Linked DNA regions of Homo sapiens. The protein of the gene in region 2 purifies or fractionates together with the protein of the main gene of each other region. This does not show direct contact. Each region holds a gene or a part of one and is shown on either strand. Other genes may lie near its edges.

The links.
Region 1: the proteins of MS4A6E (region 2) and POF1B purify together in Homo sapiens (affinity purification with mass spectrometry; one large-scale study listed by BioGRID and IntAct). This does not show direct contact.

What each region holds. Positions count from the first base shown.
Region 1 is NC_000023.11:85,303,166-85,306,665, forward strand, and holds part of POF1B (protein POF1B), read right to left. Parts: intron 3,169-3,500; coding exon 3,016-3,168; intron 2,746-3,015; coding exon 2,626-2,745; intron 1,307-2,625; coding exon 1,178-1,306; intron 324-1,177; coding exon 241-323; intron 1-240. UniProt on the Homo sapiens protein: Plays a key role in the organization of epithelial monolayers by regulating the actin cytoskeleton. May be involved in ovary development.
Region 2 is NC_000011.10:60,337,255-60,339,547, reverse strand, and holds part of MS4A6E (membrane-spanning 4-domains subfamily A member 6E), read right to left. Parts: intron 1,808-2,293; coding exon 1,601-1,807; intron 1,039-1,600; exon of another isoform or gene 848-1,038; intron 1-847. UniProt on the Homo sapiens protein: May be involved in signal transduction as a component of a multimeric receptor complex.

The sequences.
Region 1 (3,500 bases), on a different chromosome or scaffold from region 2:
CAATTATTTGTTTTTCACTTCCAAGGTAATTAATATATTGTAAATTCAGGAAAGATGTGCTTCAGGATTTTTTTGACCACAATAGTGATGTCTTTTTGTGAATATTCATTCTTCAGTAGAATAACTGGCCAGCAGAAAACACCAAACTCTGTCTAGCTTGTATATACCAATTAAACATGAAATAACTTGGATTATATGATCATAATTTTTATATTCAAATTTCATTTAAAAATACATTACTTTTTAGTGGTAATAGTAGTCCTTCCACCAGTGGAGGGTTGGTTATGAGAGGAATATATTTCTTGCCGCAACTTGGAGAGTTCCTTACAAATAAAAGATAATATAATCATTTGATGGAAAGTAGAAACATGAGATAATAAATATATTTAATCATTTAGAAGGGTTACTAACAATGATTATACCCCCTCCCTTTTACCCCTTTTTAGCCTTGACGTAATAATGTTCTAATCCCACTTGTTGAATATCACCTAGTGTTGCTTCACAGTACCTAATAAGTTATATTATATGCCGGTGCAGGAACCTGCAACTGATACAGGATATCTAAATTTGGAGGATAACTTGAGATTGAATGGGCGTGGTTCTCAGGATGAGGATGTGAAAGTTTTTGCTCTGAAAAGCCTGAAAAGTATATCCATAGAAGAAAAGTATTGAAACTTCAATATATAAGCAGATATAGTTTCTTAAGAGAGAGTTTATCAATGAATGTTACTACAAGCACCATTTGCTCCATAACAGCAATACAATATTACCCATAATTTTTGACAATTCCTTCAGTACCTATTGAATGCCAGGTCATGGGCTACATGCTACAGATACAAGGAGGAATATAACACATGCTTTAATGAAGCAGCTCATAATGTAGTAAGGAGGTCACAGTCTACTGGGAATTTCACTGCTAATGAAATATAAAATCAATGTCTTAAAAATATTAAATGTATAACAGCACTTATTTTTTGCTTCAATTGTAACTTTCATTTGAATTGTGTCTCCTGAAATATGTATATTCTACTTCCTCACTTGCACCTACATTTTATTTCATTAAATAAAGTGACTCTTGGATATGTGTCCTTTTCTAGTCCATGGGAAGTATTTATCCTACAGTACTACAGTACTAAGTTGTATTACTTTTCTCCATCCCCACCCCTTCCTTTTATACCTCTGACTGACGCTTTATGAGGGAATCCTTCTCTTCCAGCAAGCTTGTCAGTTCATGAAGCTTAAATTGGAAGTCACTACAACTTCCTTCTCTCTTTGAAACATCTTTATGGTACTGGTTTAATTGGGACTAAGGATTTAAAAAGAAATAAATATTATTATAATCTTCATATAGAAAATGTGTAACTGAGTTCCAGGGAGGTTAAGTGACACAAACTCACACAGTTATGAAATGAAAGTAAAATACCAATAGTCATAAACGTTCGAAGAATTTCATGAGTATGTAATATGAAATGAAATGCCAATTACAAATTTCTCCTTTTTTTAAGGTGTCTTTGCTATGTAGGACTAAACATTATCTACGTAACAGTCTTAGGCCACAAAATTTAAAGTAAAGCTAAGAAAACAGGCACTTTAGAGTCCTTGAAATAATAATTAAGGAAATAGCAATAACAAATTACTACTATTATATTCTGATTTTCAGTTCACAAAATATTCCTCCTGCATGAATTATCTCAGTTCTCACAGCAGTCCCATGAAATAAGCATTATTATAATCTTCATTTACAAAACAGATAATGGGCTCCAGAGAGGTTAAATGACACAGTCACGCAGTAACATAGCTGCAACTCCAAAACAGGTCTTCTGACTACAAATCTTGTCCATTTCCCTCTTTACCTCATATGTGTGTAGCTTAGGTAGAAGTGCTGTTAGTAATGTTGGAATGGAAAAGAAATCAGTGGAGGAAATCTGCTAGAAGTATTGGTAGGTTTGGAAAACAAATTATATTTTGTTTCATTTTGATTTTTGGTAAAAATTATACAGTGATGTTTGGAGAGACAAATTTGTGATTATTTTGTTTATTAAAATATTTAAGTATATTTTACTACCTTTAGGAATCAGTAAAATAAGGGTTAGATTAAGTAAATTCAACCTAGAATTACAAGTTAAGGCAATATATACTTATAAATATCACCTTAATTTTGATGTCAACTATAGGTACCTAAAACTTAACACTGTTTTCCTCCTCATGCTTGACAAAGTCCTTGCTATTCATCATCCCTCGAAATTAAGTGAGAATTTTTACAAATCTAACTATGGCTCTGTTGAGTAATTTCATATATTGCTTTTGCCTACATAAGCATGCTTTAGGCAAGATCATGAAGAGTCCTCCATCTATCCCAAAAAATAAATTAATAAAAACCAAAACCAAACCACTGAAATGAATATCTTCTTTTACTTTCCTAGAAGAAATTAAGCTAAATTAGAAAATCATTTAACAGTTATATTTTAGATACAGTAATGTATTTAAAACAAATGAATACATGACATATTTCTAAAACTCTACCTTCAGCTAATTTTTTCTGGTAGCTTTAAACTTGAAGCCATCATTATCTTGCTAGAAAGTTTGTGCTGACCTGTGTATTTATGCAATGTAGGATCAACATACCCTCAGTCTGCAGATCTCTCTATCTTTCTCCATTCTCAAGTTTTTTACCATCTCCGTGTAGTGGTTGCCAATCTCATCCATTTTAGCCTGCAACATTGGGCCTGTGCAAGTCTCAGAAACCTACAGAAGGCAAAATAACTATCTGTAATTGGATTGTTTTGAAGAAAATACATGTTATGTTACAAGGATTGTTATTAGATGAAAACCACATGATTAAATAAGACATTGAAATAATGAAAGTGATTTTCAGGAACTGCATTATAAAGCTCAAATGTCAGTGATTAAGATCTAACAGTATGTGAGGGAAAGCAGTCCATATGTTTTCTAAATGCTAGGATTACAATGATGTAACTAAGGTAATACTGTATATTTAAAAGGAAGTTTTAATACCTGCATTCTAAGGTTTTGATTCTCTTGCTCTAAATTACGTTTACAATATTCCAGTTCTTTTAGTCTGTATTCCATGTCTGATAGTGTATGTCGAAGAGAGAGATTGTTTTCTTCCAATGCCTGGCATTTTGAACTTGAGTCTTGAAGTCCTTGCTGTAAAGAAGACACAAGTACATAAGACAAATGCATTTTGTTTTTGGTGAGGGAGTGTTCTTTTTATTGATTCATTCAATTGAATCAAGTAAATATTTTCCTATGCCCAGTTTTCTTATACTCTGGGTCTTAGATGGTACATTAAGTCACCCATGTAAGATATTATAGTGTTGCCTCTAGTCTCACTCATCTATTTTGTGAGAGAGGGAATCATGACTAGATGAATTTATAATGTCTCAATTTAACAATCAGACTCTTGCTACTCTGTGACAATACTGTACCCTGCTTTCTAGTAGGCACAGAAACGACCATATGCCTGATTATTTACATGA
Region 2 (2,293 bases):
AGCTCCCAGGACTGAGAATCAGCAGCTCCATTATAGTCTCATCTTTACTGCTGAGTAGCTGTGTAAGCCTGGACAAGTCTCTTTCTTTCTCTAGCTCCTGTTTCCTCATGTATCAAACATGCATACTAACATTTATTTCTCAGAGATTTGTGAGGATCAAGGAGGTTTTGGCTGTGTAAGCCCTTTGTAAAATTCAGTATTGACATCCCTGTCTATGTATCTGAACCTGTTTGGATGTTTTTTATTTTTGTTGTTTATTTTTTATTTTTGCTGTTTTTGGTGTTTTAAGACTTGGAAAAAAACAGTGAAGGTAGTAAACTGTTGCTAATCACCAACACCAACTCACAAGGATGAGTTCTACCATTTCTGTCCTGAGACATTCTTTGTGCAGAACTGGTCATCTGATAATAAAGGGAGGTAATTTGATCACATGAACTTTTGTTTTGTGGTATTTACACACAGTTAAATAGAAGATACATGTTGTGTCCATTACCTAGAAATTGTTCCAGCAAGCAAGCTCAACAGAATCTCTCTTATTTCCAATATAAAATCGTCCCATCATGAATTTATACTTTATCACTACCAAATTTCTCCCAAATTTCTCTCCAGAATTTTTCCCAAGGTGGAATTTGTACCAATTACTGTCAGCCTCATTTGCATGCACTTTTTCCTCATTATACCATTACCTTGGAAGCAAGGCTCAGTTTATAATGGGTGCTGTACAAGCATGAATTTGACCAGACCTTTCTATCTGTCCATCGTCCAGGTGAGTTCTTGGCTGACCTCATTTTTATGATTGCAGGACAATAAATATTCTGCAACTTCTTTACTTTTATGTTGCCTGTTTTCCTCTCAATGCGTTGCTGGCCATGCACATACCCCTTAATTTTTCAACTTCAGACACATTATTTCTGTTAGCCAAACTTCATTGTTTTTCTTCTTCCAAAGAGAGAGAATTCTCCTGCGATAATTCTCAGTTACACTCTCCATCTCCCTATATTTCTTATCTCCTGATTTAAGATATCACACTTCTTTCAGCTATAACAAAAAGCAATAATAATGTTACCGTTTCACCTGATTAGTATTATTCATTATTGTAATCATTAGGAGAAACCCTTACCATCTAACCCCATATTTCCTATTCTCTGTTTCTTCATCTTTAGTCTGATGTCTTTTTAGACCAAACTGACCCCCTACCACACACACATACCACATTTCCTTGTCAGCATTTTCTGATCACCCGGGTCTTTCTGCTCTGTTTGCCAATCTGAATTCACCACTCTATGTACCAACATTCTCAGTTTGACAAACTCATAATTTATGCCTCCAAAATTAGATTAGTTGAGTAATTAAGAAACTCTACAAACCGTAAGTTTTAGTTTTTCATCATCAACCTTATCTGACATTTCAATTCCACTCTGTTAGTATGTAATCCCCTTAATCTCATCCATGCAGCCCCCCTTTGATTTACATAACCTTGGCCTTCCTCCAGATGCCCAAACCAGAATTAACAGAGAGATTTTCAAAGGATGGAATAATAAGAAATCAAGGCTTTCAGAAACCTCATAAAATTAGAACATCCCATCTAAAAAATACTTACAGCCAGACTGGCTTTGGCTCTATGGCAGTCCATGGTGTAAGGTGAATGATAATCATAAGAAAGAAGAAGTCTGGTTGGTATATCCTTTTCGTCCAACTTACACTGCAATGAGGCAGGATTTAATGCAGCCGGGTTGACAGACAGGAGAATGAAACCCACCAGGGCAGACAGAGCACTCAGAATGCTTCCAGCCAGGCTGCTATGCACCTGAAAGAGACATGCTGGGTAAGAATCATTCCCAAAGGGCCACGAATCTCTCTTATCCCTTTTTGCCATTACATTGCAAGTTATTCCCTTATCTGTCTCCCTCAGGAAGTCCCGGAGGGATCATTTCTTGTTGTAGGCCTCTCCAGTGTCCAGCCAAAAACTCAGAATCTGCAACGTAAAACTTGGCTGAATGAATGAACATATGAACTGGTTCCCCTCAAACAGGACCTCAGTAGTGTGGTAGAGAATGTTACTCTCCTAAATTCTTTCCCTGGGACAGATAGCAGGGCCCACGAGGCTTGCCTGGAAAATTACTGTGAGTGTGACCACAAGCAAAGGTGGCAATGTACCAGATGCAGTTTCTCTCTCGGCCAACTCAGAAACCCCTCGTGCAAGCATCAACCACACAGAAAATCTGGATGGTGTATTAGCATGGTGCAAAAGTAATTTTGGGTTTTGCCACTACTTTCAATGGCAAAACCGCAA